Linked DNA regions of Homo sapiens. The protein of the gene in region 2 purifies or fractionates together with the protein of the main gene of each other region. This does not show direct contact. Each region holds a gene or a part of one and is shown on either strand. Other genes may lie near its edges.

The links. The genes of interacting proteins can lie anywhere in the genome.
Region 1: the proteins of ELF1 (region 2) and HSPBP1 purify together in Homo sapiens (affinity purification with mass spectrometry; 2 studies listed by BioGRID and IntAct, with this or other methods). This does not show direct contact.

Annotation. Positions count from the first base shown.
Region 1 is NC_000019.10:55,263,101-55,270,128, forward strand, and holds part of HSPBP1 (hsp70-binding protein 1), read right to left. Parts: intron 3,187-7,028; coding exon 3,031-3,186; intron 2,883-3,030; coding exon 2,786-2,882; intron 2,290-2,785; coding exon 2,178-2,289; intron 1-2,177. UniProt on the Homo sapiens protein: Inhibits HSPA1A chaperone activity by changing the conformation of the ATP-binding domain of HSPA1A and interfering with ATP binding. Interferes with ubiquitination mediated by STUB1 and inhibits chaperone-assisted degradation of immature CFTR.
Region 2 is NC_000013.11:41,016,304-41,023,140, forward strand, and holds the start of ELF1 (ETS-related transcription factor Elf-1), read right to left. Parts: upstream 3,014-6,837; 5' UTR 2,925-3,013; intron 1-2,924.

The sequences.
Region 1 (7,028 bases), on a different chromosome or scaffold from region 2:
TTGTGATTCATAGCACAAATGGCTAATATACTTAACTCTTAAAGAGCTTAAAAAAGTCATTCGCAAAAACCATCACCCAATAAATAGATAAGTGGGCAAAGGATGAGAACGAACAGTTCACAAGAAAGAGAAAAGATGCCAAATTTCACTCATGGGAGAAATGTAAACTGGACTGGAGTACTACTTTTCAACAATCAGTTTGAAAAAAGGTCAAATGGTTCATCGAGGCCACTTTGTCCTGACCAAGATTTGGGGAGTTGGGCACCCTCATGACTGGAGTGTCAATGGTTGAACTTCTATGGAGAGCAGCTTGGTGATAGCTAATGAAACGGCCCTTAACCCTTTAACCTTCACCTTTAACATACCTGACCCCAGCCATTTCCCTTCTAGAAATTGTTCTACAGACATATGTAATAACATATACAAAAGGTTATTCTTTCAGCAGTGTTTGTCATAGCGAGAGTGTAGAAACAACCTGCATATCCATGCTACAAAAAAGAGCCCATCCGCACTGTACAGCTGCAAAATGAAAGAGCCACAGGCGAGACATGCAATGCCCACAAAGCAAGGGGCAGAACAGCCATCACAGCACGGCAGGCTTATTTTGCATAACATAGAGAAAAAGGAGAATTCACATGCACCTTTGCTCGTGTGTACCTAATATTTTAAGAAGGACACCTGAGCAACTGGGTAGCCAGAAGGAGGGGCAGGAGAGAGACTTTTCACTGTTTACCCTCCTGCGGGTCTTGTATTTTCAACCATGTGACTACGGAACCTATTCACAAAGCATTAGTAAAATCTGTTACAAATCTAATTTGAATGTTTCCACGGGTGTATACATAAGTCAAAACTTCTCATGTAGTACACTTTTTTTTTTTTTTTTTTTGAGATGGAGTCTCACTCTGTCGCCCAGGCTGGAGTGCAGTGGCGCATCTTGGCTCACTGCAACCTCCGCCTCCCCGGTTCAAGCGATTCTCCTGCCTCAGCCTCCTGGGTAGCTGGGATTACAAGCACCTGCCACTATGCCCAGCTAATTTTTTGTATTTTTAGTAGAGATGGGGTTTTACCATGTTGGCCAGGCTGGTCTCGAACTCCTGACCTCATGATTTGCCTGCCTCGGCCTCCCAAAGTGCTGGGATTACAGGCGTGAGCCACCATGCCTGGCCATGTAGTACACTTTCAATACATACAGACACTTGACAGTGTCTACACAGGAATGAATCTAATAGAATATAACGTCCCAAGGAGGTGGGTGCGTTTGCTAAGCTCGGCTTTGCTGAAGCACCAGCATTGATTCATTCACTTCAACAAATTAATGCATTACTTAATCAGTTAACTATTTGAATTTTAATTAGTTGTGATTTAGCATTTGTTACTTATCTAGTTATCTAATGAGTTATTTATTTGCCCCTTATCTAATTAAATATCTGATGACTTGTTATTTATCACTTGTTATTTACCCAAAATAATTGGTTATTTTTTGCCATTTGTTATTTCTTGTCAATTTAATGAAATAGTTAAATCATTAAGACATTTGAGTGATATTATATTCAATTTACATTTACTTAATGTAAAACAACTGTATTGGGTAATTTAGATAATAATTCAATGATTGGGCAACACTTTAAGAATCTCCAAGCTCCTGTCTCCTTGCTGTCTCTCCTACTCTGACACAGCACGGGACGAATGCTAGGCATGAAATAAACATCTGCTGAATGGAAGATAAGTGAAATGCACGAGAACACGAATGAAAGCCTGAACCAGCGGACCCAGGAGCCCCCAAGGGCAAGGACTGGCTGGCTCTGCCCCTACTAGGGTCCCCACTACCACACTTGGTCTAACCTGGGGAATTCCTCACCCCCCAGGCCCCTCCCCCTCACACCTGGTCCTCCTCACACCCTGTCCCTTCCCCAACTCACCTGGTCCTTCTGGAGCCGCTGTCCCCTCCCCCGGCACACGATCCTCCTCGAACCCCATCCCCTGCCCCTCACACCTAGTCCTCCTTGCACCCCGTCACCTCCCCGTGTACCTGGTCCTCCTGGAGCCCCTGTCCCCTCCCCCTGGCACCTGATCCTCCTCGAACCCCATCCCCTCCCCACACACCTAGTCCTCCTGGAGCCCTTGTCCCCTCCCCCTTGCACCTGGTCCTCCTTGCACCCCGTCCCCTCCCCATGTACCTGGTACTCCTCATGCTGCTGCAGCAGCTGACAGCGGTGGCGGAGGAGCTCCTCCAGGCCCAGTTCCGGCTCCCGACACTCGCGCACACCCTGCGGAAAGTCTGTCACCAGGCTGTGAGGGACATGACAGCGGCCCTTAGGACCTCCCTCTAGAGGCCTCACTGACCCAACCCTATCGCCCGCCCCGTCCCCTGGCTCACTCAGGAGCCTGGCAAGTCGCTGCCCCACAATGGGCCTCCATTTCCCCATCTGCGGAATGGACCTCACGCTGCCCCTGGCCCAGGGTGGGTGCTGAGGGGCTCAGCACAGGGCCTGGTGCGTGTCAACTCTGGTGTGCTGTTGAGAGCTCCAGCATCATCTGATTAGACACTAATCCACTGGTGGGGGCGTGTACAGAAGCCTCTCTCCCTCCTGCAAGGCCTCTGTGCCAGCCCTACTGGTGAGGAAACTGAGGCTCCCTGACTCCTGCTCCTTTCTGGCCCCACACCCTTCCTCTCTACGGGAAGGTCCCAACTCCTGAGTCCCTACGGGCTGATTCCTGAGCCACCCCCACCTTGAGAGGACGGGGCCCCCACCCCAGGCCCCGTCCTCTCAAGGAGCCAAAGTACCTGCACAGGGCTCCAAGCACGTGCTCGTGGAAGGGGCTGTGCTCTGTCCGCACCAGGGCCACCAGCTGCTGGACCATCCCCATGGAGCACAGGGTCCCTGGGGGGAGGGCTGCAGGGGTCAGAGGGGCAGCCCCACCCATCTCCTATGCCCTCCCCGGGATGCCTGTTCCTCCCCTTCTCCCACACCTGCACCCACCCCAGGGCGTCTGCTCCCCACTCCTGCCCTCACTCAAGGGCTGCCACACCTTTGTGTTCAGGGTGGCCCACCAGCAGGTTCTGCAGCAGGAATGCTGATTTGACCTTGAGCTTCTGCACCTGCTGCTGCATGGCCCTCATCAACACAGAGAAGCCGTCCAGGCGGAGGAACTGCAGCAGCCCAGCCTCCTGCTCTCGGACCAGACCTGGGAGAGGGGGAAAGGTCCTGAGCTTGCAGTCACCACCACCACCACTGTCATCACAAGCACCATCACCAACATCATCACAACCACCATCACCAACATCATCATCACCACCATCACCACTATCTTCACCACCATCACAATCATCATCATCACCATTCTCATCCTCACCACCATCACCATCACCACCATCCTCACCACCACCACCATCACTATCACCATCACCACCACCACCATCACCACCACCATCATCACCATGACATCACCAACATCACCATCACTATCACCATCACTATCACCATCACCACCACATCACCATCACCGCCATCATCATCACTACCATTAACAATATAATTATCGTCAATCATCGTCACCATCATCACCACCAACCACTATCATCCCTTGCCATGGGCCTGCATATGCAAGCATTATCTTTTTTTGAAGTATGCTTTTGAGATATAATTCACAATCCACACAGTTCAGCCTTTTAAAGATATTCACAGGGTTGTATAACCATCACCACTAACTCTAGGAAATTTTCATCACCCCCCAAAGGAAACCTATGAGCAGTCATTCCCAATTTCCCTTCCCTCTGGCCCCTGCAACCACAGATATACTTTCTTCCTTTATGGATTTACCTGTCCCAGACATTTAATATAAATGTGTCCATAAAATACGTGACCTTTTGTGTCTGACTGCTTTCACTCAGCATGATGTTTTCCAGGTTCATTCATGTCGTAAGTGGTATCAGCACTTCATTCTTTTTCATGGCTGAATAACATTCCATTGTATGGATATACCATATTTTATCCATTCCTCCATTGATGGAAGCATCATCTTTTTTAATTTTTTTATTTTATTTATTTACTTATTTATTTCATTTTGAGATGGACTCTCGTTCTGTTGCCCAGGCTGGAGTGTGCAGTGGAGCAATCTTGGCTCACTGTAACCTCCGCTCGCAGGTTCAAACTATTCTTCAGCCTCAGCCCCCCAAGTAGCTGGGATTATAGTAACCTGCCACCACACCCGGCTAATTTTTGTATATATAGTAGAGACAGGGTTTCACCATGTTGGCCAGGTTGGTCTCAAGCTCCTGACCTAAAGTGATCCACCTGCCTGGGCCTCCCAAAGTGCTGGGATTACAGGCATGAGCCATTGCGCCCGGCTGTGTCATCTCTCTCTTTTTTTTTTTTTTGAGACAGAGTCTTGCTCTATCATCCAGGCTAGAGTGCAGTGGCACCATTTTGGCTCACTGCAACCTCTGCTTCCCAGGCTCAAGCTATTCTCCTGCCTCAGACTCCCGAGTAGCTGGGATTACAGGTATGCACCACTACACCCAGCTAATTTTTGTATTTTGAGTAGAGACAGGGTTTTGCCATGTTGGCCAGGCTGGTATTGAACTCCAGACCTCATAATCCACCTGCCTCAGCCTCCCAAGGTGCTGGGATTACAGGCGTGAGCCACCGTCCCCAGTCCGCAACATCTTTTAATCCTCACAATTATCCTGGAAGTGTGTGCTTTCAGAATTCTATTTTACAGATGAGGAAACTGAGGCCTAAAGAGCCAGGCTACACAGCATGCATGACCTTTATCCAGAGGGCAATGAGAACTCTGGAAGGACTCCCAGCAGGATGAGAACTGACCTTTGGAGTGCACCTCCAGTAAGGTGCCCCCTCCTGGGTAGGCTCTAGGCCTGTGCTGGCCAAGAAGGACAGAAGCTGCTAGTAGCTTGTGGCCACTAAACACCTGATATGTGGCCAGTGCAACTAAGGAAAAGAGTTGTTCATTTCATTTAAGTTCCATTCATTTAAACTTAAGGTGAAAAACTGAAGCAGTGTAAAATATTTTCCATTAAACACAACGTTGGCTGGGCGCGGTGGCTCATGCCTGTAATCCCAGCACTTTGGGAGGCCGAGGTGGGCAGATCACTTGAGGTCAGGAGTTCGAGACCAGCCTGACCAACATGGTGAAACCCCGTCTCTACTAAAAATACAAAATTAGCTGGGCGTGGTGGCGTGCGTCTGTAATCCCAGCTACTAGGGAGGCTGAGGCAGGAGAATCATTTGAACCCGGGAGGTGGAGGTTGCAGTGAGCCGAGATTGCGCCATTACACTCCAGCCTGAGCAAAAAGAGCGAAACTCCATCTCACACACACACAAAAAGAAAACCAAAAAAAGAAAAACACACACAACGTTGTTGCTCTGGCGCACTCCACACTACCCCTGAAAACTCAGCATGTTGCGATGTGCTTCATTTGTAAAATGCACACACTAGGTTTTGAAGACTTAGCATGACAAAAAATACAGTGTCTCATTAATAGTCCATATTAATTACACATTGAAATTATAATAGTTTGGACATATTGGGTTACATATTTATTTATTTTAGTTTATTTTATTTCATTTTTGAGACAGAGTCTCGCTCTGTCGCCCAGGCTGGAGTGCAGTGGCAGTTGGCTCACTGCGACATACGTCTCTCGGGTTCAAGCAATTTTTATGCCTCAACCTACCGAGTAGCCGAGATTACAGGCATGCCCCACCATGCCTGGCTAATTTTTTGGTATTTTTAGTAGAGACAGGGTGTCACCATGTTGGCCAGGCTGGTCTTGAGCTCCTGGCTTCAAGTGATCCACCTGTCTCGGCCTCCCAAAATGTTGAGATTATAGGCATGAGTCACCACGCCCAGCCAGATGTTATTTAATTAAAGAAAGAAAAAAGAACAGGCATGCATGGACTGGAAAACACAAAGACTCCTCTCATTCAATCTGTAAGCAAGGCCTGTCAGCTCTACCTTCAAAATGTACCCAGGAGAGACCTGTCCCCTTTACGCCAGGGTTTCTCCACCTGGGCACGGTTGGTATCTGGGGCCAGATCATTCTGGGTTGGGAGGCCCGTCCTGTGCATTGCAGGATGTTGAGCAGCATCCCTGGCCTCTACCCAGTAGATGCCAATAGTCCCTCTCTCCCAGCTGCGACAACTAAAAATGTCTCCAGACATTTGTCTAAATGTCCTGTGGAGGACACGATTGTCCCTGTTTGAGAACCACTGCTCCCTACCACAACCTTGATCTCTTGCCTAGGTTATCACCATAACCCCCCAGCTCACCGCCCACCTTCCACCCACCCTCGCCGCATTCACCCTCTTCTCTGTGCAGCAGTTGGGGGCAGGGATCACAGTATGGCTGCCGTCATTTTTGGAAAGAAAGCCAAAGTCATCACTGCAGCCCACACATCTCCCTTAAAAAAGTTACGCTTATTCAGCGCTAAAAAGAAATGAGCTATCAAGCCAAGAAAAGACATGGAAGAACCTTAAAAGCAGATTACTAAGCCAAAGAAGCCAGTCGGAAAAGGCTGCAGATTGCATGGTTCCAAGCATATGACATTCTGGAAAAGGCAAAACTATGGAGACAGTAAAAAGCTCAGGGGTGGGATGACTAGCGGGAGCACAGAGGATTTGTAGGGCAGCGAGATTCCTCTGTAGAATACTACAGTATGGATCCATGTCATGATACAGTTGTCCAAACCCATAGTACATACAGCATCAAGAGTGCGCCCCAGTGTCAACTATGGACTCTGGGTGACAATGAGGTGTCCATGTAGGTTCATCGATTGTAATAAATGTGCCACTCTGGTAGACTGTAACAAGGAACCACTTTGGAGTGGCTCCACAGAGGGCGAGCGAGTCCATCCCCTCCTGTCCTGGGAAGGGCAGTGGCACCACCGCCTCGGGCAGCAGGAGCTGAGGGGACGTACCCTGCAAATGGCTCCCAGCACGGAACTCCAGTAATGGTACTGGACAGCCACACAATGGCATACCCTGCAGCCACCAAAAAAAAGGACAGATGCC
Region 2 (6,837 bases):
GTTATGCATAAACCATTAAAAATCTGAATTTCAGACCTAGAGAATTTCCAACCACCCCAATAAAACACACCAAAAAGTTAACAGACAAAAGATTTTGTATATACCAAACAATTCTCTTATTTCAAAGGAGGAGGAGAAGATGTGACAAAGATAAATAAAATGAGATTACTATCTTATAATAAGGTCAAATTTAAGATAAGTGTAATGTTAAAGCTTAGACACCTCTGGATTTTGTAAAGTCACATGCAAAGTTTTACACATACACATATTTTAGTATAACAAGGTATCACATTAAACAATATTTGCCCTCCTAAAAGAATATGAGGCAAGGATGGGCACGGTGGCTTGTGCCTGTAATCACAGGACTTTGGGAGGCCGAGGTGAGCGGATCACCCAAGGTCGGGAGTTCAGGACCAGCCTAACCAACATGGAGAAACCCTGTCTCTACTAAAAATACAAAATTAGCTGGGCGTGGTGGCGCATGCCTGTAATCCCAGCTACTTGGGAGGCTGAGGCAGGAGAATTGCTTGAACCCGGGAGACGGAAGTTGCAGTGAGCCGAGATTGCACCATTGCACTCCAGCATGGGCAACAAGAGTGAAACTCCGTCTCAAAAAAAAAAAAAAAAAAAAAAAAAAAAAAAAAATATATATATATATATATATATATATATATATATGAGCTAAAACTAAAGCAGAAATAAAACTGTCTTTGTATCTAGAAGCTCAAATTTAATTCCCACCTCTTCATATTTCCATCTAAAGCCATCTTAAAATAAGCAGTCATGAACAAAAAAATTCTAACAGTGAAAAACAAAAAGTTGTTGTAGAAATAAAATGAATGCATCATCTTTCTGATGAAAAAGAAAACTACATTTTCAAAATCATTGGTTGATCCATTTGGTTGCAACTTATCACCAAGATTATCACCAAACATCTTAATTAAGGTTTTATTTACTCTTAAGGAAATATAGAGCATTTCAAACAAAGCATCACTTGTGACTGGCACAAGCAGTTCCAGACTGCGAAGCCCTGCCATTAGGTACTGCATGACCTCAAGCAAATCACAGGACCTCTGTGGGCCACTGTTTCTTCATCTATAAAAGTGAGGCAGTTGGACAATCTTCAGTCACTTTCAGCACTAAAGTTCTATAAATCACTAATTCTAAATTTAATTCTGATGGGTCAGTTCAAACTTACATTCAATCTTATGGAAGGAAAAACGTGGAGAGGGAAATACTTAATAAATTGTTCTGGTCTTTTCTTGGTTCTCTTCTTTTTACCCCCCCTTCTCCCTTCTCCTTGAAACTCCACTTCAGTCTCTATCACGTAAGAAAATACATAAACAATATCTATACTACTTTAACTGTACCAGCTTCTTAAATTTAAGAAACCAAATTCCTCTACTTCTCTTTAATAAATAAGATCTTAATTATGCCGCTTATTTGTGTGCCTCTTGATTTTTCTCTTATGGATCACCACCTTAAAAAAGTTAAAAAAAAAAATAGAAAAGTCTTCATTAGATTTTTCACACAGACCAGACTAGAAGTAAATACAGCTTTTGCTTACTCAAAGGCTGACTAAACCAGCAATATGCAAACAAAGATGATAGCAAATGGCTCAGCTGAATTGGTAAAATGTCCGCTGTGTCTTTCTTGTAAGACCGCAAAATTGAGATCTGTTAATATCAACAATCCTTACAAAAGAGTAAGAAATAATAACTGATTGCCTTTGTCTCTTCCCTTTAATCTGACAGGCCTTCAAGCACTTAGTAAGTGCATAGCAAATTCTCAAAGAACTAGCTAAATATCATTTTGGTCAACAAGAAATGATTTGGCAAGTTTTATATCCAAAAACTTTATTTTTTGGAATCACTGCATATTCCAATTTTATCTTCATAAATATGTTTCAGAAATAAAATACTACTGCACTCATCTTTACAGAGCACCTAGAACTTTAAGGCACAGTAGGATGTATACTTGCCAGCCAAAATCTCATAACTACAATGACAAGTACTTCAGGAAAAGACTGAGCAATCTTTTCATTTACAGAAGGTTTTTAATTCAAGGCAGGCAAATTTTAAGAACAGTAATACAAAAGGAAGGCCAATACTCATCACTTTTTCTTTTTACACAAAATTGAAATAACTACGTTTCCTTAGAAGACAGCTTTACTTCTAAGGTTGTTACTCAGAACAAGTTTTCAGTGTGAATTATAAAACTTCATTTTTTTCTAATAGTAAATGAATCATTCTAGTCTTTCTTCCTCTATTTAATATTCACTTTTACTTGTTATCTAAATAATCTAATATTCATTTTTACTTATTATCTAAATAACAATTCATTTAAATTTCCATTGGGTTTCCAAAATGAAACATTTAATATAATTTCATTAACTTTAAAAAACAGAGAGGGAGAAAAAAATAAATAAATAACAGTCAATGAGCAACACCTATGGCTGAGTTGTCCCAAAACTTCACCCTTAGCTAAAATGCCAAAACAAAGCCACTGCCCCTGGATATTTAACATCTATATCACACAGGAATAATACGGTTTACTTAACTGTAACTTCAACTACCCCAAAAAATACAATTAGGTTTTTTAAATTAAAATTTGACCTTAGTTTGCTTTGTGGTACTTAAAAACAAATAAACAAACAAAAAACCTCTTTTATTCTTAAATTACATAGAAAAAAAATCACAAAGACATACAAAATGCTTTAGCAAGAAGATCTAAAACTTTCCAGAATTTCAGTGCTTTGTTTCCCCCTAGCAATTAAGTTCAATCAGGCATGTGACTGACCACACACATTTTATCAGAGGGTTAAAGAACACATTCAGCCATGTTCTTCAACAGGTAAGAACCACCCTCTGTTTATCAGCTCAAGAAAAAGCCAGAAGCAAACATACAAAATTGTAACAAGTTACCTTCAAGTATTCTTTCTCTATCGTCTTTTGAGCTTGAAAATAAAAAGCAATCCGACAAGTTTTAGCTGTTAAAATGGCTCCTGTAGATTGGGGAAGTGGTGTCTGTGCTTCAGCTTATGAGTCATACATGAAACCAAGTGTTTCTAAGGGAGGCACGCCCATGTTGCTGTGGACCCAATTATTCTGCTAGGTCAAACATGCAAATCTGCAGGTAAAAACGGTATAGGAAAGTGGGGATGAAGAGGCAAGGAGCAAGATCTACCTTGATTAGACCATTACTAAGCTCATATTAATTGCCATAATTTAAAACTAACAATAAAATAGAGTAAGAACCTACAAGGGAGCAAAATTAAAAACTATATATTGTTTTAAAATATAAAAATCTCAATTTTTAAAAGTTGCTTTACTATATCAAATAAAACTGTGAAAGGAAAAAAGTATGAAAGGGGATGGAAGGGAGATAGCAAACTCTGTGGCTCTTAATGTAACAATGGACTGGTGAGTGTAATCTGGCTACTCATTAACCCTCATATGAAAGAGATATATTGCTATGTAGTCTGGAAAGGCTAGCAAACTACAAAGCCAGATGCAGATCTGTAAGTTCACTAAACAGATAAAATCCACTAGAAAATTCAAAGTTCAGTGGAAAAATAAGTGTGAATTAAACTGGTTTACAGAATTTTTAAAAACCCACACTCCAATGTTAGGAATTTAAAGTCCAACAAAGCAAAATGATTTTAAATAAACTGCAAGCTTGATAAAACCCTTTTAAAAAAGTATTGGTACGATCATAGTTCATAACTCTACTACTTCCAAATGATAGCTACAGTTTGACTTACCTTTCAAGCAAAATTTTCTACATGTATTTCAAGCCTCTTGTGCCAGGCACCCTGCTACAGCTCCACTGCAATTGTGGCAAGGCCAACCTAAGGGGACAACTGTGGCCAGTGAAGCTCTGCCTTCCAAGTCAGAATACATCTGACAAAGTGCCCAAGCCACTGAAATATTACTACACCTACTTATTCTGGCCTCTGGGTGAATACTTATTAATTTATTCTAAGAGCTTAAATTAATCAAAATGGCTTGAAAGCACTAAGTACTTCCAAAGCGCTTGAAATGATAAATGCAACTCAATAGATAGCCTTCGTCCTGGTATCTTACAAAAAGTAAATAGGATTTAGCAAGGTTTTCTCCCTTTAGTTAATTAGTTGGGAGTTTATTCTGGCTTACCAGAGGCATAGTTGAGAGCACAAGCTGTCACTGACTTAGGAACTTTACAAAATGCTGCAAAACAGCAATGATTGTGAACCAACTTTCTGCCTGCTGTCTATTTATTCCTTACACTGAAGATTGCTTGGTTTATCCTTTTACTGAAAAATAATCTCCATGGTTTTACAAACTGTTAATTAAAAATTTATTAAAAAGAAATATAGACCATGTTTTCTCCTGTCAAATGTCATATTTAGCTTACTTTAGTTCACTTACACAAAATGACTATTCAGAGCCCATGCACCAAGAAACAAGGTCCGCTGAGCAGTCACGGGAGATTCACTTGTTCCCTGGAAAGTTCCCCCCAGGTAATTTTCCATATCTGAAATTTATTTTAGATAACATGAATGTAAACCTAACAATTTGATTATCTTCTTTTGGCTAATTAGAAATAAAAACTGTAACAGGTAAAAGAGGGCAACAGTATTATAAAAGGATGTCAGAAAAAGTGAAATAGCTGATAATGACATTAAAAAAACCCACCTTACAAAACTAAAAATAAACATAACTTTAAAAGTATTCAGATATGAAGCCATTATATAAGGTCAGTAAGTTGTAATATTCCCTAAGTATATTACCATACACTAAGTGTCTCCAAGTCAGCATTAGTTTAAGACAGGCCTTCGAAAGCCAAAGTGTGTAACATCAAGTGTGTGAGATGTTTTATGTAGAACAGGTATCTAAAAGGATAAGCTTCTGCTATTGAGAAAATCCATTTATATAATGCACCTCATTACTTAATAATGGCAAATATTCCAAACATAATTTAAAGGAAGTACTCTGGCCACCAGTAATGTGAAGAGAATTAAAGGGAAAATAATTACACCTCTTCAACAGAAACAAATATCTTAGCTGTTCCTAAGGAGATGACTCCAGAGCTGCCATTACAATATATTATCCCTCTGCCCAGGGGTATCCCTATTAGCATTATTCTATCACCTACAGGAACTGGATCCTTGTTCTATTTACAGCCCCAATAAGTCAATCTCTGCATATGAGAGGATCAAAGAGAAAAAAAAAGGCAAACAGTTTGACACAGGTTCTAGTCAATCTACTTGGGTTTCAATCCCAGCTCTGCTACCTATTAGCTATGTAATCTTGGGCAATTACTTAACAATCCTGCATCATAACTTATTTATCTATCATTTAGCCTAATAGTATCTACCACACAGATTATGAGGATTAAAATAAGTCCACACACTGCTATCCAGACTACATAAAGCACTTTCACAACTCAAAAATAGGAAAACAATCCAGTTTTTTAAATGGTCAAATCTGAATAGACACTTCACTAAAGAAGTCATACAGATGGCAAAAAAAGTACATGAAAATATCTCAACATCAATACTCAATAGGGAAATGCAAATTAATGTGACACCACCACAACAAAACAAAACAAAAACCACCAATAATACCAAGTGTTGATGAGAACATGGAGCGACTACAACTCTCATATATTGCTGGTGGGAATGCAAAAGTTTAGCCACTTCGGAAGATAGTTTAGCAGTTTCTATAAACATACACTTATCACATGATCCAGTAATCCCATTCCTAGGCATTTACCCAAGAGAAATGAAGATATGTGTCTATTTTAAAACTTCTATGCAAATATATATAGCAGTTTTATCATTCACCAAATATTGAAAACCCAAATAATGTCCATCAATGTGTGAATGGATAAATCCATGTAATGGAATGGTATAGTATATCCATATAATGGAATGCTACTCAGCAACAAAAAAGGTCTGAATTTCTGATATATGTGACAACATGGATGAACCTAAAAGCATTAGGCTGAACAAAATAAGACTGACTCCATGACTCTGTATGATTCCATTTATATGTGACATAATGGAAAAGGCAAAACAGAAGGCACAGAAATCCTATCAGTTCTAGGGGCTGGAAATGAGGGGAGGGGGTTGACTACAAAGGAAGACAAGGAACTGTTGAGGGTGACAGAAATATTCTGTATCTTGACTGTGGTACCGGTATATGACTTATGTACATTGTCAAAATTCATAGAGCTATAAAACTAAATAGGGCAAATTGTACTGCATATAAACCATACCTCAATAAAACTGATTTTAACAAAAAGAAATCTAGGCCAGGCACGTTGGCTCACGCTTGTAATCCCAGCACTTTGGGAGGCCAAGGCAGGTGGATCACTGAAGTTCAGGAGTTCGAGACCAGGCTGGCCAACATGGTGAAACCGTCTCTACTAAAAATACGGATATTAGCCAGGTGTGGTGGCAGACACCTGTAATCTCAGCTACTCAGGAGGCTGAGGCAGGAGAATCGCTTGAACCTGGGAGGTGGAGGTTGCAGTGAGCCGAGGTTGCACCACTGCACTCCAGCCTGGGTGACCAAGCAAGACTCTGTGTCAGACCTCCACATTTTGTAACAAATATCCAAGTTCTGCACATGTACCCCAGAACAGAAAGAAAGAAAGGAAGGGAGGAAGGGAGGAAGGAAGAAATAAATCTAGTTTAGGTATATGAAATGTACATACTGTGGGTATGTTTATTTATAAAATTAGATATGGATCAAGTCAGTATATACCTTATATAAAGCTTTCATGGCTGCTCATGGAATTGTCAACATGTATATTTGAACTATTAGCTGAGAGAGATTGAGTCAACTGAAT